2 separate regions of the Homo sapiens genome follow, and region 2 is linked to region 1. Evidence: fine-mapped expression QTL. A gene starts in region 1. The other region holds a variant in brackets. All regions are shown on one strand. Distances are from middle to middle.

Region 1 (12,556 bases):
CTCAATCCTACCAGGACCCTCAGCTCCAGTAGAAGAGCACCAACCGGATGGGGATATCATGAACCCAGAGGTCGGAGGTCATTGCCATATCCTGCCCTTTCTGGGGTCAGACTCTAGAGCCCCACTGAGGGGAGGTGGAGTCGGGGCTGCTCAAGTCCTTCTGGCCTCAGGGCAAGGGGCGGGCAGGGATGTGTGGAGGACCCTGCTGCTGGGAGAGGGAAGCAGGGAATGAGGCTGAAGGCTGCGCCCCATTGCCTGCTCTAGGACTTAGATGACCTCCCCGACTGATAGCCTGAGCCTAGGCTGGATGTCCAGAGCCCCTGTCCCCATGGCTGGGGGTGACAGTGGGACACTGGCCTATGCTGGGTGCTGGAGACCTAGCACTGAGTCAAGTTCAAGCCTCGCCCTGGCCCCAGGGGTCTCTCCTTAAGTGGAGGGTTTTCCATTATCTACAACAGCCATCTCACCTCTAGTAGAGGCGAATCCAGGGTGCAGTTCAGGCCGGAGGGAGTCAGGAGCGGGAGCTGAAGGGCAATAGTTTTTTGCCAACCCTCCCATCTCTGGACCAGACCAGTCAGTGCTGGAGCTTCCAGGGTCCCAGGACAGAAGAAGCACCTCCCCTCCCTGGTCTGGCGGAAGGCACTGGCTGGCCCAGGGCCCAGGGCCCAGGAATAGACTATGCGGAGGAAATGCCATCTGGGATTTGGGCACAGATTCCAGGGGCGGAGAGGTCACCGGGCAGGCGTCTCTGGGCCTTGCTTCTCTCCACCACCTCACACATTCATTCAACAGGCATTTCCTGCCACCCACCCTGTGCCTGCCCCATGCTGGGAGTCCCTGCTTGGTGGCACATGGGAGCCCTTCCAAGCAGCAGGCCCCGCACACACCCTGGGCTGTCTGAGCTGCCACATCTGACAAGCTTGAGCAGAAGCAGGGCTGGATGTTGTCTCCTGGGTCCCCAGCTCCTGTCAAATGCCACCCCTCAGCTTCTCACTCCCAGGTGGGACCCAGGGTCTACTTCCCGTTTCCCCGTCTCTACCCCAATCTGGCCTCCAAAGGCCGACAGCAGGGCCTGGGAGCTGGGGCTGCTGCTTATTAGGCCCCAGCCTTGGGCAGGGGACCAGGCAGGCACAAGCAGGGTGTGAGGCCTTGTCAGAAAGGAAGGACCGTGGGATGCTCTCCGCAGCCACTGCAGTGCTGCCTGCCTGGGCCTGATGGTGCCTATACCTAGCACCCCCAAGGCCCATATCCCAAGTGTGGGTGTGTGCTTGTGCATCTGAGGAACCTCTGGGTGTGGCATGTGGGTCCTTGGGTTGTGTTTGAGTTTTGTGTGTACATCTCCAGGTTGTTTCTCTAGGGTGTGTTGCTTCTGTGCTCATGAGTTGCTAGGCTGTGTTTCTCTGGGTATGCATGTGATATCTGCCAGCATCTGAGTGTGTGCTCTGGGTGTCTGTGTGTGTATGTCTGGTGTGTTGTGCTTTGGGTGTGTGCGTGTGTATATGTATGGGGGGGTATGAATTGCAGCCACAAATTCAGATGTGCAAATGTTGCAATGCTGTTTTCTTCTTCTTTTTTTATTTTTAATTTTTTTGAGATGGAGTCTCGCTCTGTCTCCCAGACTGGAGTGCAGTGGCGCAATCTCGGCTCACTGCAACCTCTGCCTCCTGGATTCAAGCGATTCTCCTACCTCAGCTTCCTGAGTAGCTGAGATTACAGGCACCTGCCACCACACCCAGATAATTTTTGTATTCTTGGTTGAGATGGGATTTCACCATGTTGGCCAGGCTGGTTTTTTTTTTTTTTTTTTTTTTTTTGAGATGGAGTCTGGCTCTGGCGCCCAGGCTGGAGTGCAGTGGCGCCATCTCGGCTCACTGCAAGCTCCACCTCCCGGGTTCACGCCATTCTCCTGCCTCAGCCTCCCGAGTAGCTGGGACTACAGGCGCCCGCCACTACACCCAGCTAATTTTTTGTATTTTTAGTAGAGACGGGGTTTCACCGTGTTACCCAGGATGGTCTCGATCTGCTGACCTCGTGATCTGCCCGCCTCGGCCTCCCAAAGTGCTGGGATTACAGGCGTGAGTCACCGCGCCCGGCCACCAGGCTGGTCTTGAACCCCTGACCTCAGGTGATCCATCCACCTCAGCCTACCAAAGTGCTGGGATTACAGGTGTGAGGCCGGCTGCAATGCTGTTTTCTTTAAATGACATTACATTGAATCTGTCCCCTCACCCCTCCTGTGGGCGCTAGACAATCTCTGTCCCTCTGCGGCTCCTAGTCTAGCCCCTTTCAGGCGTCTTGCCCAGGGCAAGGCAAGAGAGGCGTCCTTGTGGCGTGGAGCCCACAGTGTGGACTGAGAGGCACTGTCCTAGCCTTCATGGTCTCTTGGCCTGCAGGGACTCTGCCATCGTTGGGCCACATGCAGGTGGAGGAATCTTTATAGGCTGGGAGCTCAGTGTCCTGGGTGAGGACACTGCCTGATTGAAGCCCCCCATGCCACCCATGAGCTCCTCCTGGGGCTGAGTGGGAGCACAGCACAGACTCCTCCTCAGAGTGCTCCCAGGCAGCCGGCCCTGTTCTTATCTCAGGCCATCGCCCCTCCTCTGTGAGTCTGCCGCCACCCCTGACCTCTGAGAATATTGGGAGTCTCTGGCTGTGTGTGGGGGCTCTAAGGTTTGTTCCTCTATGCCTGTGATGCTGGGGTGTTTGGGGGCTCCACATTTGGAGGCTCAGCCCTGCACCTTCAGCACTGTCTGGGCTGGGACAGCAGCAGCTCTGCTGCAGGTGGCAGGGTGACCTCTCAGCTTGGGCTGGGGAGCTGGGAGCTGCCAGAAGTGGGAGTGGGGGATGGGGGCAGAAGCGAAGCACTTGGAAGAAACCAATGCAAGAAGCAGCACTGGCCATTTATTGTGACAGATACGGCCCACGGACCTGAAGTGCCCTCCACCATGGCCCCAAACCCAATGGCCTTCGCCCTCGGGGACTTATCACATCTGCACACAGTTGTGCTTTAGGAGCTGAGAGGAGTTCTGCCAGGGAACCACAAGGACCTCAAAGTCACAGCGCAGCTTCTGTGGAGGGAATATGGGGGAGAAGGAGGGGTGAGCCCAGCCTCGACCTGTCTCCTCCCAACAGCCAGCCCTCTGCCTGCCAGGCTGCTCCAGGCCAAGAGAGGGACAATCACTGACCCAACGGATGTCAAGCCGCATGTCTGGGGCTAGACTCCAGATCTTGGTAGCCAACTTCCCCATTCCCGAGGGAAGCCCCAGCTTCCTTTCTGCACCCCATCTTGGCCCAGAGGCTGACTCATCCAGAAGGACGACAGGTTCAGCCAGACATCTAGACATCTACGTGTCCAGCCAAACCAGTTCAGGATGGACAACCTGAGTGCCTGAGGCTCTGGGGAGGGCTGGGGCTGGAGGAGCCCAGCTGTTACCTCCTGCTGCGCCCCTGCTGCCAGGGGGCAAGTGGTGAGGTCGACGTGGTCTCCAGTGACCCTGGTCTTGCGGCAGTCTGTGCTCCCCATCTCCATCGTCAGGAAGTACTTGATGCCGGCCACCAGCTGGGGGCATAGGGTAGGGGCAGGTCAGGGGTCTTGACCCTTGATCCTCACTTCTCACCTCTTGATATATTCTCCTGTTGCCCCCAGGCACTCAGGTGGGGAGAGAGGGAGAGGGGATGATTCAGACGGGGTGGGGGGGGGTGGGGGGGGGTGGGGGGGGGAGTTCTGGTGGGGATGGAGGGTGGAGAGGCCTGGAGGCTGAGCCCCACCAGCAGCCTTGGCAGACATCAGACATGCCCCATCTAGGGAGCTGCCCACTGTCCCCACCTGCCTTCCCTCCTCCCCGATCCACCCCATCAGGGCAGAGACTAGGACCAGGCAAGCCAGGAAGGCAGGTAGTGCAATACAGGGTTTAATTATGTCTTTCCTTGAAATTTAGATGGTTGTCCATCGTGGAGTTTTAGCATTAATTCGATTTTTAAAATATTGCATGAAAATATCCCGATTGCGCTTTTAGGCCCCCTTCATGCACGCTGGGGCAGCGCCTGTGGCCTCCCCCATCTGGGCCGGGTGTCCCCTCCCAGCACCCCGCCCGCCGCACCTGGCTCTGCGCCTTGATGATGTGCGTGTCTCGGAAGTAGTAGATGCTGTTGCTGCCCATGTTGTAGCTGGCCACGGCCGCCTGCGCCGCCTTCTGCACCTGCGGGTCGTCGGGCGACAGGTCCCGGAGTTCTCCGACCATGCGCTCCTGCGGCCGGGCCCGGGCGTCGCGTGGCAGCGCCAGGAGGCAGAATGCGACCAGGGCCAGGCCCAGCGCCAGCGGGAGGTTCGAACGCGCCATGGCCGTCAGTGCCGTCGGAGCCCTCAGAGCCGTGAGTGCCGAGCTTGCGGCCGCGCAGCTTTTACCCGCTGGGCCGCCCCGCCCGACGCCCGCGATGCGCCCCCGCGGCCTGGAGCTGGGGCGGGGCTCGAAGTTGCCGGGGTCCTGCGAGGTTCAGGGAGCCCAGGAGGCCGAGGGGGCGGCGCGCACCCGCGTGCCAAGACGCTTCCCTGCCCTCCAGGACACACCTGGCCCGGGGAGGGAGAGGACAGCGACAGTCCCCAGCAACAAGTGCCAGTACAGGGACGGTTCACGGGAGGGCTGTCCAGAATGAACTACCAACCGCAGCTCTTCGTGGGCTCTTACTGTTGCCACCATTTCCTAGCTGTGTAACCTCGGAGAAGTCACTTAACCACTCGCTGCCTCAGTTTCCTCTTCTGTACAATGGGTGTTGTGAGGATTCAGTGAGCTGAAACAGGTAAAGTTCTTAGAAGAGGTCTGGTGCTGGATAAACAGCAGGTGAGTAGGACACATTACTGCTCAGCGCTGCCTGACAACCTTCCTGGAGCGCGAGTGACTAATGTTTCTACCTGGCCAGGCACCTAGGCATGCTTGTAATTCCAGCACTTTGAGAGGCCAAGGTGGGAGGACCACTTGAGCCAAGGAGTTCAAGTCAGTGAATCGTGATCTCACCACTGCAGCATTCCAGCCTGGGCGACAGAGCTAGACGCTGACTCAAAAAAAAAAAAAAAAAAAAAAAAAAAAAAGAAGGCCGGGCATGAGGGCTCACACTTGTAATCCCAGCACTTTGGGAGGCCGAGGCAGGCAGATCACTTGAGGTCAGGAGTTCAAGACCAGCCTGGCCAACATGGTGAAACCCCGTCTCTACCAAAAATACAAAAATTAGCCAGGCGTGGTGGCACACACCTGAATTCCCAGCTACTCAGAAGGCTGAGGCAGGGGAATTGCTTGAACCTGGGAGGCAGAGGTTGCAGTGAGCCAAAATGGCACCACTGCGCTCTAGCCTGGGTGACAGAGAGAGACTCTGTCTCACAAAAAAAAAAAAGAAAAAAGAAAAAAAATAGTTTCCACTTTACAGAGAAGGGAAAATGGATTTGCCCAAAGACACCGGCAGGAAATAAATGGTGACACTGGCTTGTGTGTGCTGACAGTCTAAGTCAAATCTGTGGTCTTAAACCAGACTGAGCCCACAGGACACAAACTGCCCAGAAGGAGGGGGTGTCAGTCATGTCAGCTCTGCCATCTTACTGACGGCATGGCTTTGGGCAAGTCCCTCAACCTCCCACACAGAGCCTCCGTGCCCTCGTCTGAAAGACACCTTATCTCCTAAGTTTGTTCTGATATTGATGTTTCGAATCTGGCTGTCCCGTGGATACAGTGAGCATGTGCTGGAGGTACCAGCAAACAAGGCCCATGACTGTGTTTTTAAAGACTCCAATAATTGCCAGGTGTGGTGGCTCACGCCTGTAATCCCAGCACTTTGGGAGGCCGAGGTGGGCAGATCACTTGAGGCCAGGAGTTCGAGACCAGCCTGGCCAACATGGTGAAACCCCATCATAGCCCGCACGGACCTAGGGGGACTGAACAAAGCCGGGCAAACGTGGGAATAAAAGACAAGAGACAAAAGAGTATATTTGGAAGAAGGGGTCAGGGGGCACCTTGCCTCTAGTGGACAAGGGCCCTGAGCTTTACACAGCCCTCTGTATGTAGTAGGCAAAAGAGATAGCGAGAAAGGGGGAGGGTGATTGTCGGGTATGTCAGGTAATTGTCGGTCAGCACTTTGGTTCACAGCAGGCTTGTGAGACTGCATCCTTTGAACAATAGGTGCTAATTTTCTCAGTAGATAACTTCAGGGACCCCAGTGCCAAGGAGTAAGGCCCTCAGCAAACCTTTTGGTGGCAGGGCAGTGGGAGTTTGCCCACATCCTGCATTCGTGATAAACAGGTGGCTGTTTGATCATATAGCCTTCAGTGGAATGCTGAGTTGGTCACAATCCCTTTGGCCCTTTCGGCTCCCAACACCCCATCTCTACTAAAAATACAAAAATTAGCTGGGTGTGGTGGTGCACACCTGTAGTCTCAGCTACTTGGGAGGCTGAGGTGGGTGAATCACTTGAACCTGGGAGGCAGAGGTTGCAGTGAGCTGAGACGGCACCCACTGCACTCCAGCCTGGGTGACAGAGCAAGACTCTATCTCAAAAAAAAAAGACTCCAATAATTAATTGATTATTATTAATAGGTGGTGATCTATTAATCACACGGTAGCTCACACCTGTAATCCCAGGACTTTGGGAGTCGGAAGCAGGAGGATCACTTGAGGCCAGGAGTTTGAGACCAGCCTGGGCAACATAGTGAGCCGTCTCTACCAAAAAATCTAAAATAAATTAGCTGTGCATGGTGGTGCACGCCTGTGGTCCCAGCTACTCGGGAGGCTGAGGTGGGAGGATTACTAGAGTCTGGGAGGTCGAGGCTGCAGTGAGCAGTGATGGTGCCACTGCACTCCACCTGGGTGACAGAGCAAGACTCTGTCTCAAAAAAAAAAAGGAACAGATGAAAAGCAGTGTTGAAGTAGTCAACGCAAGAAAAGTCTGGATTTTGTTGAATTTTTTTTTTTTTTTGTGACAGCGCTCTGTCAGCCAGGCTAGAGTGCAGTGGCGCTATCATAGCTCACTATAACTCGACTTCCTGGCTTCAAGCTATCCTCCCATCTCAGCCTCCCAAGTAGCTGGGACCACAGGCGCATGCCCCCATGCCTGGTTAATTTTTTTCCACACCTGGCTAATTCTTATATTTTTTTGTAGAGATGGGGTCTCACAGTAGTGCCAGGTGGGTCTCGAATGCCTGGCCTCAAGAGATCACGAGATCCTCCCACCTCAGCTTCCCAAAATGCTGGGATTACAGGCAGGCCTTGGAATTATTTGTCTGCATTTTAGAGTTCAGTGTAGTTTGTATTTGTAATTCCATGTTGCTGGGGGGCGGGGCTTATTGTCCCTGGGGCACTAAGATCTTGCAGTGCTTAGAGCCTCCAGGGGCTTCACTGGGGCTTGGAAGAGGTGCTAGGTCACAGTACGTAAAGAGCAGCTGGCAACTGTCACTGTGATGGATATTGTATGTAGGCATCCAGCGTGTCACCCTCCCTTCCTGATTCTGGGCCTTAGAATCCCAGGACCACAAAAGGAAGTGATTTCCCACACAGAGACCTAGACCACAGCGGTCACTCACTGCCCAGGGCAGCTGCCAGCCTGCTACCCACCTCACTTCCTCAGCCCAGCTGTGGAAAACCAACTCTGCCATCTTCCTGGGATTCCAAGGAACCGTCACAAGTTCCTGGCGGCCTCAGGTGTCTGGCTTAAAGGGACAGACTCCAGTTTGTGGAAGTGCTGGCCGAGCTTGAGTTGATCAGGAGGATGACGCCTGGCCAGGACTCTGAGCTGAAAGCCTGGGAGGGGTAGAGGAAGAGTACCAGGATCGTGCCACAGGGGCGAGGTGGGAGAGGCAGCTCCCCTGGGCCTGCTGTGTCATCACTTGGAGCTTAGCCATGGCCACAGGTACCTCCAACAGCTCTCTCAAAAACTAGCCAAGGCCTGTCTGCCACTCACCAAGGGCACCCACTCCACCTGCCTCTGCTTTGTGCTGATGCAAAGGACTTTTTTTGCAGTACAACCTAGCAATTTCTGAGCACTTTTCACCCACTGATTCTCACAAGCACCCTGAGGGAGTACACATTATCCTCACTTTGCAGATGAAGAAGTTAATCAGAGAGGTCGGGACACTTGTCTAAGGTCACACAGCTAGAAGTGGTATCTTGGTAAGAAAAGGTGGGGAGGATTAACAATGGTAAGAACTCTTGCTGTGTGCCAGGCCTTGCGCCAGGGATTCAATATATGTTCTTTCATTCCCATAGCAGCTCTGCACAGACAATGACTATTATCTCTTCCTACAAGGAGGAAATGGGAGATCAAAGGGGAAAGGTTAGTGGTGGGTCCCGGTGCATGAGTCCTGGGCTGCTCCACAGGGGTTTGAGGTCTGCTGTGCATGGTGTAGGGGTTGTTTCTTGCAGATGGGGTGTCCCTGAGCAGACTTTCCCAGGGCCTGACTCCATCCCGTCTGGACCACTCTGGCTTCCAGGAGGTTTGCGCCAAGCGTGAGCTTGAGGTCGGTCAAATGTACTGGCCACAGGGCAGAGCCTCCAGTTTTGCAGTGGCCCAGACATCCCACCCCAGGTTGTCCACAGCACCCCTCTCTTGCCCCTGGCCTGATGGGTGGAGATGACCAGGGCAGGTTCTTGACATCTCCTTCCCTCTGGGATCAGGCTCTCCAAGGCTTCGATGCTTCCCCCAGAACCCTCTTCCTTGAACCTTCAGTTGGGCAGAGGATATTGCCCTCCCCCCAGGGCTCTGTAGCCCCATATCCTGGAAAGGAGATCTTTCAGCAAGGAAACCTGTAATCCAACAGGGATTAAAGCTCCCCTCTGGGGAGGAGCGCTCCTAAGCGCTGCTGATTCACTGGTTGAATCTTCACAACCCTGTTATCAGCTGGCAGAGGAGGCTGTAGCTCAGGGGAGTGAAGCAACTTGCTCCAGATCGCATGGGGAGCAAAGCCCCAGAATCGGGCCTGGCTGGCTCTTCAAGGCTGCCACCAGTCAAGGTTGGGAGTGACAGGAAAGAGCCCTGGTCCCCACAGGGAGGGGCCAGCCTGGAAAGGGATCAACAGTCACAAGCACCTGCTGGGAGCCTTCCATGCTCAGCAGGCTGCCGGGGGCAGGGCTTGTGGTGGTCCAGGTAGCCTCCCCCTACTTCCTTTCTGGGGGCAGCAGGAGCCCTTCAGCACCCCAGAGTGCATGGGCTGGGTTCACACGAAGTTCTAGGCTGGCTCTGAGCACTCATGACTAGACCAGCTGAGGGGGTCAAGCTCTGGCTGGGTGTGATGGGGGGATGGGGTCAGTATTTGCTGATTTCTGGGCCCACCTATGTCCCAGGCTAGTGGGTGGCCAGGCATGTCCTCTTGGACACCACGGGCTGACACTGAGACAACCTGACTCATACCCCTCACCAGCCAGGTCTGCTTTCTGCGCCAGCATTCCAAGCCGTGGTCCCTTTGTCCTGCTGGCTGAGTCGGGCTGGATCTGAGAGGCCACACTGTCACAAGGTACATTCTAGATGCCCTTTGTCTACTGCTGTCCCAGGACAGAGCCAAGAACTTGTGTGGGATGCAATATGGAGTCCTGATAAAGGGTTTGTGGCCTGCCACCTGGTATATGCACTGCCTGTGCCCCAAGGGAGAGGTGAGAAGGCAGGTTCCAGTCCCTTCTATGGCAAAGCCTGTGGGTGAGCCGGGAAAGGCAGACAACAAGGAAATAAAGCAGACAGCATGAGCCGCAGGCTTCCAGCAGGGTCCCAGTGCCACCAGGCGAGGCCAAACCAGGAGGCCAGCGTGGGCAGGAGCCCAGGGAAGGGCTTCATGGAGGAGGAGTCTCCATGACCTCACAGAGCACCAGCAACAAGCTGGCAGCATCAGGACTGAGGTGTGGTGAGGCCGGAGCCCTGCAAAGCCCCCACCTAAGCACACAAGGCCTGCGACAGCATCATAGCATGAGGGTCAAGGCTGAGGGGACTTAGCCGGGAAGACATCAGAAACAGTCTGAAACTCAAGAGAGAGCCCTCGTGACCACCTCAGCCGGGACTCAGACCAGCAGCCTCCCAGGAAGCGGCTTGAAGCACAAGCTGGGCCCTGCTGCAGTCACCTGGTGTCCCTTTCAAGCTGGGCCACTCGCACTTTCCAGTCCCAGCCTTGCACAGAACTCTCATCCCTACAAATAACAATTTAGTTTCTGACCTTTCACTCAATCGTTCCAGCCTCAGGTCTTTATTTTTGGTTTTCCTGTTATCTTTCTATTGTTGAGATGTAGCGAATACACTGAAAAGGGCGCAGAACATACACTTTTGGTCAATGCCTGTACCACCACCCCATAGGTCAGAAACACAGGTCAGGGTAGGCCAAGCCTACCCTTAAGCCCTTCCACACCCTCCCCCAAAGATAATCCCTGTAGACTTTTTCCTTTACTATTTACCATAATCATTTCCTTTGTTTTCCTTCTAGTTTTACCATCTATGTAGGAATTCCTAAGAATTTGTTTGTCTTCATTTGCTATTGAGATTCGTGTTGTACACAACTATCATTTGTTCATTTTTACCTCCGTCCAGTGTCCGGTGGCATGAGTGCCTATTTATCTACTCTAGTATTGACAGCCGCTAGCGTTGCTCCCAACAATGCAGCTGCAAACTCATCTAGGTCCTGCTGCAGGTGTTCGGGACTTTCTTCAAGGCACAGTCCTGAGAGTGGAACTGCTTGGTCACAGGGCGTGTCAGTTTTACTAAATAACACCCAACTGTCTTCCCAAATTGTTTAGACCAATTTATACTCCCACCAGCTAGGTATCAGTTCCTGTTGCTTCATTATCTCATCAATACTTGGTATTGTCCAACTTAAAAGTGTTTGCCAGTCAGGTGGGTGTTAATGGCATGTGATGTCTTATTACTAGCAATATGGAGCACCTTTCCTGTGCTTATTTACTGGGAGGGAACCCTCTTCTGTGGCCGTCTTAGATCTTTTACCCATTTTTCTGTTGTTTTTTTTTTTTTTTGAGACAAAGTTTCATTCTGGTCACCCTGGCTGGAGTGCAATGGCCGTGATCTCGGCTCACTGCAACCTCTGCCTCCCAAGTTCGATTCTCCTGCCTTAGTCTCCTGAGTAGCTGGGATTATAGGCGTGCACCACCACACCCGGCTAATTTTTGTATTTTTGGTAGAGATGGGGTCTCACCATGTTGGCCAGGCTGGTCTTGAACTCCTGACCTCAGGTGATCCACCCACCTCGGCCTCTGAAAGTGCTGGGATTACAAACGTGAGCCATTGCGCCCAGCCAGTCCGCTTTTTTCTTGATTGCAATTCTGTATGTGCTATGGAAATAGTCCTTTGTTGTTTATACTGCTGCAAATATCCTTTCCCTACAACCACCTCATTTTCCAAGTGGAGAAACTGAGGCTCAGAGAGGCTAAGCCACATGACCAAGGAACACATGGCCGGGTCCCTGGGTTTCCAAGCTAGTTTGAGTTCCAGTCTGGCTACTTCCCAGGAGCAAGTCCATGGGCAAATTAGCCTCTCTGAGCCTCAAATTTCCTCACCTGTAAAGGAGAAAATATTTATTACTGTGAAAGAAAAAAATGTTTGCAAAGATTTTAGCTTCAAGCCTGGTTCATACTAAGTGTTCAAGAAATAATAGGGCTGGCCGGGTATGGTGGCTCACACCTATAGTCACAGCGCTTTGGGAGGCTTAAGGATCGCTTAAGGCCAGCATGGGCAACAGAGCAGGGCCCTGTCCCTATTAAGTTAAAAAGTAAACAAAAAGAACAGGACTAAAATGTACTGAGGTGTACTCCCCTCACATCCTTCCAGCTGTGATGCCTGTGCTCCTTCTCCTCCCTAAGAGATCATGGAAGATGGCAAGCACCCTGCCCACCCTTACAGAGGCCGGGAGAGCAGATGATGACTGGCAGGTGAACTCTCACCCACATCCGGCCCACCCTGTCTGGTACCTCTGACTCCCACTGACTTTTCCACCAGGTGCTGCCTAGCCCAGCTGTTGACTTAACTGACATCTGGAGCACAGTCCATCTGGCTCCCAGGAAAAGATCCACCCACACCCTCTCCCACATCACTCGGGGATTGAGACAAAAGTCACCTGCCTGAGGCCTACATGGCTAGGGTGGCTGCCCTCTGGGAGTGGAAGGGAAGCTGCCAGTTTCGGTCTCTACTGATAAGGAGTGAGGGAAACATGGTCAGTCCCTGAAGGAGAGGCAACTCCCAGCCCACTTGCTTTTCAGTGCACAAAGCCCAGTCATGAAAGCCACTGACTTTATTGATCTAAAAAACTTTACAAGGACAGTGACTGTTCTGCCAAAAAAGGAGCCAAATGGTATCAAACGGATTGAAAGTGAGGGTGGGGGTGAGGGATGGGGCCGGGAATCCATTCAGGAAAGCTGGTAACTGTCACCAGGGAACTGGCAAGGGAAAAAGGACGGGGGAGGCATGCAAGAGCGAGAATCCAAAAAAAAGTTGAAATGGTTAGGGGAGAAAACTCCCAAAAGACCCCGGAGTACGTCGGAGGTGAGTACGACAATAGCAATCTTTTCCTTCGTAGAGGACAGGGGAGGAGTCC
Region 2 (15,710 bases), 77 kb after region 1:
TGGGACTACAGGCGCAAACCACCATGCCTGGCTAATTTTTGTATTTTTAGTAGAGACGGGGTTTCGCTATGTTGGCCAGGCTGGTCTCGAACTCCTAACCTCGTGATCCGCCCGCCTCGGCCTCCAAAGTGCTGAGATTACAGGCATGAGCCACCACGCCCGGCCACAGCTCCTCTTTTACTGGACTCACCAGGACCATGGTTTTGTGTTTTTGGGTTTTTGGTTGTTTTTTTTTTTTTTTGAGACAAGGTCTCACTCTGTCACCTAGACTGACTGGAGTGCAGTTGCGTGATCATGGCTCACTGCAGCCTCGACCTCCTGGGCTCAAGTGACACTCCCGCCTCAGCCTCCTGAGCAGCTGGAACTAAAGGTGTGCACCACCATGCCCAGCTGATTTTTTGTATTTTTTGTAGAGACAACGTCTAGCCATGTTGCACAGGCTGGTCTTGAACCCCTGGGCTCAAGAGATCTTCCTGCTTCAGACTCCCAAAGTGCTGGGATTACAGGCATGACAGGCTCATTTTAAATAAAATCTATCAGACAATGAACCCCACTTTTATCTGTAGTCCAGACATCTCCCTCAAGCTCAGAAGGTGAGTCCTGCCTCCCAAACTCGAATGACCCAGTCCACTGCTCCATCTAGGTGTCTAACAGGCATCTCACATTCAACAACTCTGAAACTGACTCCCTGACCCTCCCCACAGCCCTCTCCATCTTGGCCTAGTGACTATGCTATCCTTCTAGTTTCTCGAACCAAAAGCCTAGGCTTTTCTCTCTCTGAAATGCTATGTCCTATCCAACAGTTGTTCCTGATTTCAAAGTGCATTCAGAATCTGAACGCTTACCACCAGCTATTTGGAGCATTCTCAACATCCGTTGTCTTCTACATAGACTTTCTGCTTCTTCATGGTCAATTCCCAACCCAGCAGCCTGGGCCATTTTTTTTTTTTTTGAGATGGAGTCTCTTGTTCTGTCGTCCAGGCTGGAGTGCAGTGGCGCAATCTCGGCTCACTGCAAGCTCCGCCTCCTGGGTTGACGCCATTCTCCTGCCTCAGCCTCCCGAGTAGCTGGGACTACAGGCGCCCGCCACCATGCCCGGCTAATTTTTTGTATTTTTAGTAGAGGCGGGGTTTCACTGTGTTAGCCAGGATGGTCTCGATCTCCTGACCTCATGATCCACCCGCCTCTGCCTCCCAAAGTGCTGGGATTACAGGCGTAAGCCACCGAGCCCGGCCAGCTTGGGCCATTTTTTAAAGACTTCTGCTTAAAACCTGCAATGGGAGCCTGGAGTAGTGGCTCACGCCTGTAATCCCAGCACTTTGAGAGTCTGAGGCAGGAGGATGGCTTGAGCACCGGAGTTTGAGACCAGCCCAAGCAACATGGATAAACCCTGTCTCTACTTAAAATACAAAAAAATTAGCCGGGCATGGAGGTGCATGCCTGTAGTCCCAGCTACTCGGGAGGCTGAGATGGGAGAATTGCTTGAACCCAGGGGGTGGAGGCTGCAGTGAGCCAAGATCACACCACTGCACTCCAGCCTGGGCAACAGAATGAGACTGTCTCAAAAAATAAAATAAAATAAAATAAAATAAAATGAAATACAATACAATAAAATAATAAATACATGTACAGATAGAAAACATCTTTATTGGTTCTTCAGATAATAGAAGTAATATATGCACACTGTCAAAAATTTAAATATGACCAGGTGCAGTGGCTCACAGCTGTAATCCCAGCACTTTGGGAGGCTGAGGCAGGTGGATCACCTGAGGTCAGGAGTTCGAGACCAGCCTGGTCAACATGATGAAACCCCGTCTCAGCTAAAAATACAAAAAAATTACCAGGGTGTGGTGGCAGGCGCCTGTAATCCCAGCTACTTTGGGAGGCTCAGGCAGGAGAATCGCTTGAATCAGGGAGGCAGAGGTTGCAGTGAGCCGAGATCGTACCACTGCACTCCAGCCTGGGCAACAAGAGTAAAACTCTGTCTAAAAAAAAATTAAATCTGTGCAGTAGAACTGCTGTTAACTTTTGGGTGTGTATTTGGCCCGTGTTTTTCCCCTGTGAGCACAAACAAATGTGGAACTGACACCCTGAGCAAGGCGGGGTGCAGCATTCGGACAGAGACAGCTGCATCCTTTTCCACCCACCCACTCCCCCTTGGGCCAAGCCGTTCCCAGGCCTGGATAAGACGTGAGCAGGCACTATGACTTCTCAAGTCACCTCAGGTAGTGAAAAGTCCTCTGATCACTAAGAACAGCCTCAGAAATTGAAATTGAAATGTCTAGTCTGGGCCGGGCGCGGTGGCTCACGCCTGTAATCCCAGCACTTTGGGAGGCTGAGGTGGGTGGATCACTTGAGGTCAGGAGTGTCCTGTCCTCACTGCAAGGGGGCCTGGCACCTGATTAGCAATGCAGGGCCCTGGGGCTATTGCTTTGTCCTTGGCCTCCGATGCAAAACCAAGACCTGAGCCAGTGTACCATTTGAATATCTTGTGATTTTAGAGATAGACGTGTGTGTGTGTGTGTGTGTGTGTGTGTGTGTGTGTGTGTATACAAACCTACATATACATATTTTTCAACAAAAATGAGATCATCCTGGTTTTGCCTACTAGAATGTTATATTCTTTCCATGTCAGGACATACAGAGCCACCCAGTCTTTACCATCATCACTGTTTGGCTGTCTGACCCACCTAATGTACATCACCTGTGTCCTTTTGTCAAACACCGGGACTGCTTCCGCTTGCGTCCTCACTCCAGACACTGCAGCTGCGGACATCCCTGGAAATGTGTCTTGAGATTTCTGCAAGGTAATGTTCTATAAGCAAACTAGCTAGCTCTAAGCCATTTAGATCTTGATGGTGCCTAATTATTCCCCCTAAAGGCTCAATCATTATAGATTTCCATCAACAGTATTTATACCCTCACCAGCAATTATAATTTTCACTTTGCTAATCTGATAGATGAAAAGCTATTATTGCATTGTTGCAATAACTTGTATTCTCTTCTCTTTCATGAAAGGGCCAGATATGCAAGGCAGCTCCCGAATGCTGAAGGAGCAGAGAAACCAAAGAACAAGGCAGACAAATCCAGTTTGCTGGTACAGGGTGATTTATTTGGGTGACCTTACAGACAAGCTTGGTCTTGGGCAGCCACGAGACAAACAGATCTCCGTGCCTGTCATCCTAGAGCCAAGGCTTATGTACCATAGGGAAAGGGTATGAGTGTTCTGTGCAAGACAATTAAAGGCAGCCCTCCAGAACAGGCAAGAATCTGCATACGTTATAGCCTATAATTGGTGTGATAACATCAAGGTGGACATAGTCTTATGCTAAGGGCAGTAAATAGAGTAGGAATCAGGAGGTATTCACGGGACTGCAGCTATTCAGAAGTCAGCATGGCGGATTCACGTCTAAGATGGGGTCATTTTTGTCTCCACACCTTCATTATTTGTGAGGTTCAAGTATTTTCCTATCTCCATGGACCATTTGTGCTACCTCTGTGAATTCCTGTCCATGTCCTTTGCACATTTCTCTTCTGCATTAGTCCTGGGGAGCAGATAGCTGAGTTTATTGTATTCCTTATTTCACAGCATACAAAAAGCATCAATGGATGCAATGCGACTCTTGTTTTGCCTTTGTATTTTCTTCTTCATCTTTGATCCCCGCTCCATCCTATTTAAATGTGAATAGGCTGGGCGTGGTGACTCATGCCTGTAATCCCAGCACTTTGGGTGGCCGAGGCAGGTGGATCACTTGAGGTCAGGTGTTCGAAACCAGCCTGGCCAACATGGTGAAACCCCATCTCTACTAAAAATACAAAAATTAGCCAGGCGTGGTGGCACGTGCCTGTAATCCCAGCTACTCAGGAGG[T/C]TGAGGCAGGAGAATTGCTTGAACATGGGAGGCAGATGTTGCAGTGAGCTGAGAACATGCCACTGCATTGTAGCCTGGGCAACAGAGCAAGACTCTGAAAAAAATAAATAAATAAAGAGAGAAAGAAAGAAAGAGAGAGAGAAAGAAAGAAAGAAAGAAAAAGAAAGAAAGAAAGATGTTAACGGATCATTGTGAAGCTTTTATCATTTTTGTGTGTATGTATTTTTTGTTTATGTAAGTGGTATTGTGGTCCGGGTGCAGTGGCTCACGCCTGTAATCCCAGCACTTTGGGAGGTCAAGGTAGGTGGATTGCTGGAGTTCAGGAGTTGGAGACCAGCCTGAGAAACATGGTGAAACCCCAGCTCCACAAAAATATACAAAGAAATTAGCTGGGCATGGTGGCGTGTCCCTGTAGTTCCAGCTACTCGGGAGGCTGAGGCGGGAGGATCACCTGCGCCCAGGAGGTTGAGGCTGCAATGAGCTATGATCACACCACTGCACTCCAGTCTGGGTGACAGAGTGAAACCCTGTCTCAAGAAAAACATAAAAAATAAAACTAAGTATAAAAATAAATAAATGGTATTGTATGTATTTAATTTGCATAAGCAGTATTGATCTCATTTTTGTTCCTTACTCGTTTCCTTCAAAACTGTGCTTTAGGGTTTTTAAAATTTATTTTATTTTCTAGAGATAAGGCCTCACTCTGTCACCCAGGCTGGAGTGCAGTGGTGTGATTATAGCTCACTGCAGCCTCGAACTCCTGGGCTCAGGTGATCCTCTACCACAACCACAACGTCCTGAGTAGCTTGGACTACAGGCATGTGCCACCATGCCTGGCTACTTTAAAAAAAAATTAGTTTTGGAGAGACAGAGGTCTCACTATGCTGCCTAGGCTAATCTTGAACTCCTGGCCTCAAGGACTCCTCCCGCTTAAGCCTACTCAAAATGCTAGAATCAGGCTGGGCAAGGTGGCTTATGCATGTAATCCCAGCACTTTGGGAGGCCGAGGCAGGTGGATTACTTGAGGTCAGGAGTTCAAGACAAGCCTGGCCATCACTGTGAAATCCCGTCTCTACTAAAAATACAAAAATTAGTCGGGCATGGTGGCACACACCTGTAGTCCCAGCTAACTCAGGAGGCTGAAGCAGGAGAATCACTTGAACCCAGGCAGAGGTTGCAGCTAGCTGAGATCACACTACTGCACTCCAGCCTGGGTGACAGAACAAGACTCCATCTCAGAAATAAATAAATAAATAAATAAAAGCTGGAATTAGGCTGGGCGCGGTGGCTCACGCCTGTAATCCCAGCACTTTGGGAGGCCGAAGAGGGAGGATCACGAGGTCAGGAGATTGAGACCATCTTAGCTAACATGGTGAAACCCCGTCTCTACTAAAAATACAAAAAATTAGCCGGGCATGGTGGCGGGCGCCTGTAGTCCCAGCTACTCGGGAGGCTCAGGCCAGAGAATGGCGTGAACCCGGGAGGCAGAGCTTGTAGTGAGCCAAGATCATGCCACTGCACTCCAGCCTGGGCAACAGAGCGAGACTCCTTCTCAAAAAAAAAAAAAAAAAGCTGGAATTATAGGCATGAATCACCATGCCCCATCGTTTTGTTTTTAGAGACAAGGTCTCATATTGCCCAGGCTGGCCTCAAACTCCTGGGGTCAAGAGATCCTCCCGCCTCAGCATCCCAAGTATCTGGGATTATGGGCACATGCCACCCTCCGCTGCTAACACTGTGGTTTTTGTTTTTGTTTTTTGTTTTTTGATTTTTTTTTTTTTTGAGACAGAGTCTCGCTTTGTTGCCCAGGCTGGAGTGCAGTGGTGCAATCTTAGCTCGCTGCAACCTCCACCTCCCGGGCTCAAGCAATTCTCCTGCCTCAGCCTCCCAAGTAGCTGGGATTACAGACTTGCGTTACCATACCCAGCTAATTTTTGTATTTATTTTTTAGTAGAGACCAGGTTTCACCATGTTGGCCAGGCTGGTCTTGAACTGCTGACCTCAGGTGATCCGCCCGTCTCGGCCTCCCAAAGTGCTGGGAATACAGGCGTGAGCCACTGTGCCTGGCCCGCACTGTGTTTTAAAAGCCTTGTAGATCCTGACTGTTGCATAGTGTTCCGTAGTTTCCCTTTGTATGCTTTACTTAATTCATCCTTCTGACAATGGATGCCAGACTGGCTCCCAAGTCCTGTTCTCACAAAGAACACCGTGGTCAACACCGCTGCACATGCCTCTTTGTACACCTGAATGAGAATCTCTCTGGCCTACTTATCCAAGGCTGAGAGTGTAAGGTCTTGGCATAAACATACACCTAATTTCAGATTGCTTGAGAGAAGGGCTGTCAGTTTATGTGCCTACAGAAGACCAAGGATTTCTGTCTGCCCACATTCTCACCAAACATTGACATTATTCACCTTATGAATTTTGACTAACCCTGGGGTCATAAAATGAGGTCTGGTACTTTTTTTTTTTTTTCGAGACGGATTCTCGCTCTCTCGCTCTGTTACCCAGACTGGAGTGCAGTTGTGCAATCTCAGCTCACTGCAACCTCCACCACCCACGTTCAAAACAATTATCCTGCCTCAGCCTCCCGAGTAGCTGGGATTACAGGTATGTGCCACCACGACTGGCTAATTTTTGTAAAGATGGGGTTTCACCATGTTGGCCAGGCTGCCCTCGAACTCCTGACCTCAAGTGATTCACCCACCTTGGCCTCCCAAAGTGCTGGGATTACAGGTGTGAGCCACCGTGCCTGGCCAGAAATCCTTAATCTTTTTTTAAGTCTGGTAAAAAAAAAATCTTTAATTTTGATGGAGTTAGACTCATAAATGTTTTTGAATAGAGCTTTGTATTTTGAGAGTCTTTCTTTTCCTATCCCTAGGTGGGGTATTTTCCTATATTCTATTCTATTAGTTTACGCTTAACATCTGTGTCCATAACGAAATGCTCTGTGTACAGACTTTTCTGATACTGTCTTTATCTGGCTTGCGGGGGTCATACAAGAAATTGGGCAGCCTTCTCTCTTTCTGGCTTCTGTAACAACTGGTGTGAGATAAGGACCATCTGTTCCTCCAAAGGCTGGTAGAACTGCCCTATAAAAACATTTCTATTGGGTTTTTTCACATTGGAGTCTCAGATTACAAGTTTCTTTTTCTTTTAGTTTTTTTTTTTTTTTTTTTTTTGAGATGGAGTCTTGCTCTGTCGCCCAGGCTGGAGTGCAGTAGAGTGATCTCGGCTCACTGCAACCTCCACCTCCCAGGTTCAAGTGATTCTCGTGCCTCAGCCTCCCAAGTAGCTGGGATTACAGGCATGTGCCACCACATCCGGGTAATTTTTGTATTTTTAGTAGAGACAGAGTTTCACCATGTTGGCCAGGCTGGTCTCGAACTCCCAACCTCAGGTGATCTGCCTGCCTTAGCCTCCCAAAGTACTAAGATTATAGGCGTGAGCCACTGTGCCCGGCCTATTGTAGTGTTGTTGTTGTTGTTGTTTTCCCAAGAGACAGGGTCTCGCTATGTTTCCCAGGCTGATTTTATATTCCTCGCCTCAAATGATCCTTCTGCCTTAGCCTCCCAAAGTGCTGAGGTTAGGACGGGTGCAGTGGCTCACACCTGTAATCCCAGCACTTCGGAAGGCTTAGCCAGGTGGATCACCTGAGGTCAGGAGTTCGAGACCAGCCTGGCCAACGTGGTGAAACTCTGTCTCTACTAAAAATACAAAAAAATTAGCTGGGCGTGGTGGCTGGCGCCTTTAATCCCAGCTACTCGGAAGGCTGAGGCAGGAGAATCGCTTGAAAATGGGAGGCAGGGGTTGCAGTGAGCCGAGATTGCGCCACCACACTCCAGCCTGGGCAATAAGAGTGAGACTCCATCTCAAAAACAAAATAAAACAAAGTGCTGAGGTCACAGGCATGAGCTACTCAATTTTCTTTCCTGGTTATGGGTCTACTGAAGTTTTGATATTTTTGTGCCAATTTTGACATTTCACATTCTTCCAGAAAGGTATTTACTTTGCTTAAGTTTCTATATTTACCAACATACAATTATTTGTAATGTTTTTTGGTATTTTGATATTTTATGTTATTTGGAAATGGGGTTTTGCTATGTTGCTCAGACTGGACTCAAATTCCTGGGCTAGAACGATCCTATTGAGTAGCTGGGACTACAGGTGTGTGCCACTGTGCCCAGGTTGGTATTTTGATATTTTAAACCTCCATGGGGGGCTGGGCACGGTGGCTCACACCTGTAATCCTAGCACTTTAGGATGCCGAGTTGGGCAGATCGCTTGAGGTCAGAGGTTTGAGATCAGCCTGGCCAACATGGTGAAACCCCGTCTCTACTAAAAAAATACAAAACAATTAGCCAAGTATGGTGGCACACACCTGTAGTCCCAGCTACTCGGAAGGCTGAGGCTCAAGAATCACTTGAACCCGGGAGGCAGAGGTTGCAGCAAGCTGAGATCGCGTCATTGTATTCCAGCCTGGGCGACAGAGTGAGACTCCGCCTCAAAAAAATAAATAAATAAACCTCCATGGGGGGGTGCTCAAGAGTCAGATCACGTGGGGCCTGGGAGCCAGGGAAAGGATTCTGGGTTTGTCCTAAGGATGAACAGCGTGCAAGAATATTTGACTGAGGCTCTAGAATGGAATGGATATGAAATGCCAAAGTGAAGTGCTTGCTCCTGGCCAAACTGCAAAATTTTAAAGAAAGCAGAAACCCATGTTGCCACTGTCGAAGCCCCTCATCCACCGCAAGAGTATAAAGGGATCGAGGGTGGATTTGAAAGGGGCAGTTTGCGGTGATTTGATTTGGAAAGAGCTGCTATGGCAGTGAGTCTGCAGGGGGTGGAGCTGGGGAGCTGCCTTCTAACCTCAAATCTGGTGAGAAGTGCTTCAAGGAAGCCCCCCAGAGCGCTTGAGGTGGGCTTCCTGCAGTCATGGCACCCCCGTGGGTCATTGGTAGGAAAGGCCTCCAGAAAGGAGGTGACCTGCAGTGGGCACTGGACCGCAGGAATGGAAAAAGGGGTCTGGCCCCACGGGCTTGTTTTCTCTGGCACAGGGTATGCAACAGAGTGGGGTAGTGCATGCCACTTGAAAGAAAACCAGAGCCAGTCAACAGAGAGGGGCTGCCCCTTTGCCAGGAGTTTCAGTCAAGGGGGTAGTACATAAGGGAGCCCATAAAACCCCTGAGGGCAGGAGCCAGCTTTAGACAGCTGCCACCCAAGGAGTGAGATGCCATCTTACACCAGTGTCAATCCAGGATGCACTCTCTGCACCCACTGCCCTCCCTCCCTGTTCTCCAAAGGCAGCGTCTTCTCAAGCCTGGGAATGGGGCCAGGGAGAGGCGCAGACCCGACTTCCCTGACTCCTTATCAGTGGGGGCTGCAATGGCCAGAAGTGGAAAAAGCTGTGTTCGTTTTTTTTGTTTGTTTGTTTGTTTGTTTGTTTGTTTTGAGACAAGCTCTCGCTCTGTTGCCCAGGCTTGAGTGCAGTGGTGCTATCTTGGGTCCCTGCAGCCTCAAACTCAAGCGATCCCTGCAGCCTCAGCCTCACGACCAGCTGGGACTACAGGTGCGTACTACCACGCCCAGCCCAAGAATACTTCATTCTAAATCAAGTTCTGGGATTTGGCCACTACACAAAACTGGGCACTTTAATAGAGATTTGTTTAGTAACTTTAGGTGATCACAGGACGATGAGGAAATGGCAGCATAAGATGTAATGGCTGCACTCCCTCTGGCTGTGAGTAGAAATTAGACTGGAGGGCCTGGGGTGGAAACAGTGGCCTGTCATCCAGGAAGTGGGAGGGGAGGGGAAGGGAGGGGAAGGGAGGGCAGGGGAGAGGTCTGAGCCTGGGCCCACCACCATTCAGAGGTCAAGAGAGGTCAGGGAGATGTGGCCATGGAGACAAGACCACAGCCCACGGTGGGGAAGAAGATTGCCAAGAGAGGCCGGGCGCGGTGGCTCACGCCTGTAATCCCAGCACTTTAGGAGGATGAGGCGGCGGATCACAAGGTCAGAAGATCGAGACCATCCTGGCTCATACGGTGAAACCCCGTCTCTAGTAAAAATAAAAAAAATTAGCCATGCGTGGTGGCGGGCGCCTGTAGTCCCAGCTACTCGGGAGGCTGAGGCAGGAGAATGGTGTGGACCCGGGAGGCGGAGCTTGTAGTGAGCCGAGATGGCGCCACTGCACTCCAGCCTGGGTGAGAGTGCGAGACTCCGTCTCAAAAAAAAAAAAAGATTGCCAAGAGAGTGAGGGCCCCCATCCAAGTGAAGAAAGTGTTTCAAAGAGGAGGCAAGCGACCAACTATGACAAGAGCCACTGAGAGGTCAAGGCGAGCCCAAATGAGAACAACTGAATCGCCTGGACCCATTCTCCAAGGACTCATTGTGGGAGGCTTATTACAGGCTTTGGCTGTGCGAATGCGGCTGAGATTGGCCTTCACCACATCACACCGCAGGCCCCATCTGAAACTGTTCTTTTGCAGCTAAAGTCTAGGAAAAAATTTCTTTCCACTGAAGAAGTTTTCTCCGGAAAAAAAAAAAAAAGTTTTTTGCTTTGGCTGCCAGAAAGCTCAGAACTAAATTTGATATTGAATTAATAAAGCACTTTTACAGGCCTTTATGGGTTGCATATTTATATATGTATGCTATTGTTTCTGATCTTTATTTTCTCTTTTAATTATATTTTATTATTTTATTTAAAAAATTTTTTAATAATTTTTTTAGAGACAGGGTCTCACTATGTTGCCTAGGCTGGTATCAAACTCCTGGCCTCAAGTGATCCTCCTGCCTTGGCCTCCCAAAGTGCTGGGATTATGGTGTGAGCCATCCCATGTGGCCTAAATTTTTTTTTTTTTTTTTTTTTTCAGATAGAGTTTCGCTTTGTCACCAGGCTGGAGTGCAGTGGCACGATCTTGGCTCACTACAACCTCCATCTCCCGAGTTCAAGAGATTCTGCTGCCTCAGCCTCCCGAGTACCTGGGGCTGCAGGCGTGCACCACCACACCCAGCTAATTTTTGTATTTTTAGTAGAGACAGGGTTTCACCATGTTGGTCAGGATGGTCTCGATCTCTTGACCTCGTGATCCGCCCTCCTCAGCCTCCCAAAGTGCTGGGATTACAGGCATGAGCCACCACACCCGGCCTAAAATTTTTTGTTTTTAGAGATAAGATCTTGCTATGTTGCCCAGTCTGGACTCACATTCCTGGTCTCAAGTGATCCTCCCTCCTCGGGCCTCCAGAGTAGCTGGGAGTGCACCACTGGTAGCACGGGTGTATACCACTGCACCCATCCACATTCTTGAATCTCCATTTCTGTTTTTTAAATTTTACCTTCCTTGTTCTTGTTGGAAGCCACCTCAGGTGCACTGGGAATGTGGTTTGCAAATTAATCAATGGTATTTCATTTATTCGGCAAGCATACAATGATGTCTTGTAGTAGTCAGGTCTCTCTAGCATACAATTGGCCTAAATACATTATTAAAGATAAAAATAAATGTCTTCACCCATTCTCTGTTGCTTATAACAGAAAACCTGGAACTGGGTAATTTATTTAAAAAACGGAGTCTTGCTCTATCGCCCAGGCTGGAGTGCAGTGGTGCGATCTCGGCTCACTACAACCTCCACTGCCCAGGTTCTCGCAATTCTGCAGCCTCAGCCTCCTGAGTAGCTGGGATTACAGGCACCCACCACCACATCCAGCTAATTTTTGTATTTTTAGTAGAGATGGGGTTTTGCCATGTTGGCCAGGCTTGTCTTGAACTCCTGATCCCAGGTGATCTGCCTGCCTCAGCGTTCCAAAGTCCTGGGATTACAGGCGTGAGCGATTGCACCCGGCCACATGTGCTGTCTTGAGTCTCACGGCCACCCCTGACCAATGGCTGTGGGGAGGGTATCTTGACCAGCGGTCCTGGAGGTGCCACCTGGTTGGAGTGGGGTGGGCGTCAGTTCTCTAGGGATACGGATATGATTTGGGGTGGCCTGAAGGAAGAAGGGCAGGGCAGACCCATGCACAAAAACATGCCCACCACGTACCTACCACGTGCCAGGCCCTGTGAGACATCCTGGAGACACAGACGTGAATCCGACAGGCCCTGTGTCCCCAAGAGGGGCGCTTTCCAGAAGTGGAGGTGAAACCTGCAAGCACAGTTATCCCAGCCAGAGCATGGGAAGAAACTTGGAGAGGGGACAGGTGAAGGACTTGGGGAGTTCAAAGGATGAGGAGGGACTCTAGGTTCTGGCCTTGAGGAAGTAAGGTGAACTGAAATTGCCCTTTTTCTACAAACAGCTAAGAAACTGGACAAAGCACAGGAAACAAGTGTTTTCAGATATTAGACAAAGGGCAGCTCAGGGCTGTGATCCCTGAAAAACGGAAGATAAAGGGGAGGAGCCCTGACATTGCATAGGTGATTTTCCTACCACTGCACTGGGAGGGCAACCGTTGTTCTCACCGAGTTAAGAAGACGAGACCAGAGTTTGGGAAGGCTCATCTTCAGGGCTTCTGATCTAACTGAAGACAGGCCCAGATATGGGTATTTTAAAGTTCCCCAGGGTCGGCCGGGCACAGTGGCTCAGGCCTGTAATCCCAGCACTTTGGGAGGCCGAGGCGGGTGGATCACTTAAGGTCAGGAGTTTGAGACCAGCCTGGTCAACATGGTGAGAACTTGTCTCTACTAAAAATACAAAAAATTGCCAGGCGTGGTGGCGAGTAGCCTCCCCAGCTACTGGGGAGACTGAGGCAGAAAGGAGAATCACTTGAACCTGGGAGGCAGAGGTTGCAGTGAGCCAAGATCGCGCCACTTCACTCCAGTCTGGGAGACAGAATGAGACCCTGTCTCAAAAAAAAAAAAAAGAAAAAAAGAAAAAAAAGCTCCCCAGGGTTCTAAGATGTAGCCAGGGTTGAGAACCACTAGGCTAATCTGCAACTCCAGACAAAGGCGGAAGGGGGGCAGGGAACCCACAAAACAGAAACCAAACTCTAAGAAAACGGGTAAGAGGAAAGTGAAACCGACTCTGGGCACCAGGCTGGAATGGAAGAGCATCTGTGGCTAAAAACAGGGCAGCCGCACCCCCCTGGAGGAACCAGGGCCCTGCCCACCCACTTGCTTGCTGCGGCTTCAACACGCTGGCCTCCTCGGGGTCCCCTCTCCCCACTACCCCTGGAGAGGCGTGAATGTACCTATTTGTTTACCATCAGTCTGCTGCCCCTTCCCCCAACTGGACTGAGCTAGGGAGCAGAGGCTCTGTGTGTTTTCTCTGAGTTCACCTTCCCCAAGCCCAGAGCAGGGCCCGGCACAGAGTAGGTACTCAGCAAATATTTCTTGAGTGACTGAATGAAGACAATGTATGATCCCATGAATCCTGCAGGGCCATGCTTTACCCTGCCCTATGTGATGCTGTCCCCTGAGGTTGGGCCCATTCTGACAATGTCTTTTCTGTTTTTTCAACACAGGGTGCATAGAATCAAGCAGACATGCGCCTTAGTTTGGGGCACTCCATGCAGCCATAGGGCCCTGAAAAGCTTCCCTTTTCTTTTCTTTTTTGTTTGTTTGTTTGTTTGTTTGAGATGGAGTTTCGTTCCTGTTGCCCAGGTTGGAGTCCCATGGCACGATCTTGGCTCACCGCAACCTCCGCCTCCCGGGTTCAAGCAATTCTCCTGCCTCAGCCTCCCGAGTAGCTGGGATTACAGGCATGCGCCACCATGTCCGGCTAATTTTGTATTTTTAGTAGAGATGGGGTGTCTCCATGATGGTCAGGCTGGTCTGGAACTCCCAACCTCAGGTGATCCGCCCACCTTGGCTGCCCAAAGTGCTGGGATTACAGGCTTGAGCCACCACACCCAGCCTAAAGCTTCCCCTTTCAATGGACTCTCCCCTTCCCTGCATCCCAGTCCTACTCCTGCTGCTTTGAGCCACGACATCCCCTTGTCTGTTTAGTACATGCCCTTCCAATCTGCTTTCCAGGATCTTATTTCCATAAATGTCCATAACAGCAGGCACCATTTATTGGGTGCTTACTGTATGCCAGGCACTGTGCTGAGCGACTTACATATCATATCTCATGAAACCATCACATGTCCCTGAAGGAGGTGCTATTATGATCCCCGTTTTACAGATTAGAAAATAGAGATAGGCTGGGCAAGGTGGCTCACGCCTGTAATCCCAGCACTTTGGGGGGCCGAGGCGGGCGGATCACCTGAAGTCAGGAGTTTGAAACCAGCCTGACCAACATGAAGAAACCCTGTCTCTACTAAAAACAATACAAAATTAGCCGGGTGTGGTGGCGTATGCCTGTAATCCCAGCTACTCGGGAGGCTGAAGCAGGAGAATCGCTTGAACCTGAGAGGCGGAGGTTGTGGTGAGCCGAGATAGCACCACTGCTCTCCAGCCTGGGTGACAAGAGAGAAACTCCGCCTCAAAAAAAGAAAAGAAAACAGAGGTAGAGGCCAGGTGGGGTGGCTCATGCCTGTAATCCCAGCACTTTGGGAAGCTGAGGAGGGTGGATCACTTGAGGTCAGGAGTTTGAGACCAGCCTGGGCAACAAAGTGAGATCCCATGTCTCAAAAAATATATATATACATATATATATGTGTGTACATATATATACACACACATACACACACACACATATATATACACACATATATAGGCACACACATATACATATAAAAATACATATATTTGTGTATATAGAGACATATACATATATATTTGTATCTATACGGTCTCGTCCATGTTCTGGAGCCGAGCATCCCTGTAACTTGGAAGGAATGGCCTCAGGTGTGGCGGGATAGGTTGTTAACTTCACCTCTCCATGCCCTGTTCCACACACACACCTGTGTTTAAGTCCAGACCCACCCTAATCAAAGGCCCTGTACCAAAAAGGGGAGGGACCAGACCCGTGGTGGAGGGTCTGGATCACAAGTACCATTCCCTTGCCTTTCTTTTATTTATTTATAAAAGAAAACAGGCCAGGCACGGTGGCTCATGCCTGTAATCCCAGCACTTTGGGAGGCCGAGGCTGACGGATCACTTGAGATCAGGAATTTGAGACCAGCCTGGCCAACATGGCTAAACCCTGTCTCTACTAAAAACACAAAAATTAGCCGGGCATGGCGGCACGCACCTGTAGTCCCAGCTACTCAGGAGGTTGAGGCAGGAGAATCGCTTGAACCTGGGAGGTGGAGGTTGCAGTGAGCCAAGACTGCTCCACTGCACTCCAGCCTGGGCGACAGAGAGAGAGATTGTCTCAAAAAAATGAAAAGAAAAAGAAAAAAGAAAACAGAGGTAGAGACAGCTTAAAGTCACTTGTCCAAGGTAACAGAGTAAGTGGCAGAAATGCCGTATAAAGGATTCTCATGTATGTCTGCGTTTTTTGTTTCTTGTTCTCTATTTGACTATTTGTCACTCAGCACTCTGCATTTAAGCTCTATCCCTGTTGCCTTCTGCCCAGGCAGTTCTCCATTGATGGACACTGATTTTTCTGCCACCTCAAACCATGCCTAGGACACATCTCTCTGCTTGTGAGAGGTTTAACCCAGGAGTGGACCTGCCAGGGGACACACAACTGCCAAAATGCCCTTTCAAACATCCCCACTAACTTACATGCCTACCAAATGCCAGAATTCCATTCACTGGCATCCTCACTAGCAACAGGTTTTATCCGGTTTTCAGTTTTATCTGATGGGCATTGTGTGGGATCCTGTTTTTCTTTGCAGCTCTCTGATTACTGGCAAAAATCTTAGTCCTTATTCCATTTTTTAAAACGACATTTGAACACACAATAGGAAAAATGGGATTTCAGAATAGAAATAGTTCACTCTGATGATGGGAGGTGGC

The links. PIP is the estimated chance that this variant, and not a neighbour inherited with it, causes the effect.
Region 2: its variant is fine-mapped to the expression of CST6 in lung (TOPMed, PIP 0.94).

The regions. Positions count from the first base shown.
Region 1 is chr11:66,003,829-66,016,384 of GRCh38, reverse strand. CST6 (cystatin E/M) reads right to left here and starts at 4,377. Exons shown (of 3, transcript NM_001323.4): 1 at 4,101-4,377; 2 at 3,434-3,559; 3 at 2,880-3,068. The coding sequence starts at 4,340. The coding sequence ends at 2,985. It overlaps BANF1 (barrier to autointegration nuclear assembly factor 1), which reads right to left. Exons shown (of 3, transcript NM_003860.4): 3 at 12,236-12,556. RefSeq lists enhancers at 2,320-2,895, 7,281-8,075, 12,347-12,556 and a silencer at 8,733-9,027.
Region 2 is chr11:65,925,405-65,941,114 of GRCh38, reverse strand. It overlaps LOC105369350 (a long non-coding RNA gene), which reads left to right. Exons shown (of 3, transcript XR_950212.3): 2 at 2,636-2,807; 3 at 3,019-3,323. Among named protein-coding and RNA genes, the nearest start is that of TSGA10IP, 12 kb to the left of the region's middle. RefSeq lists enhancers at 1-97, 3,354-3,878, 12,703-12,997, 12,712-13,141 and a cis regulatory region at 12,678-13,243. The variant T/C (reference allele first, on the strand shown) is at 3,870.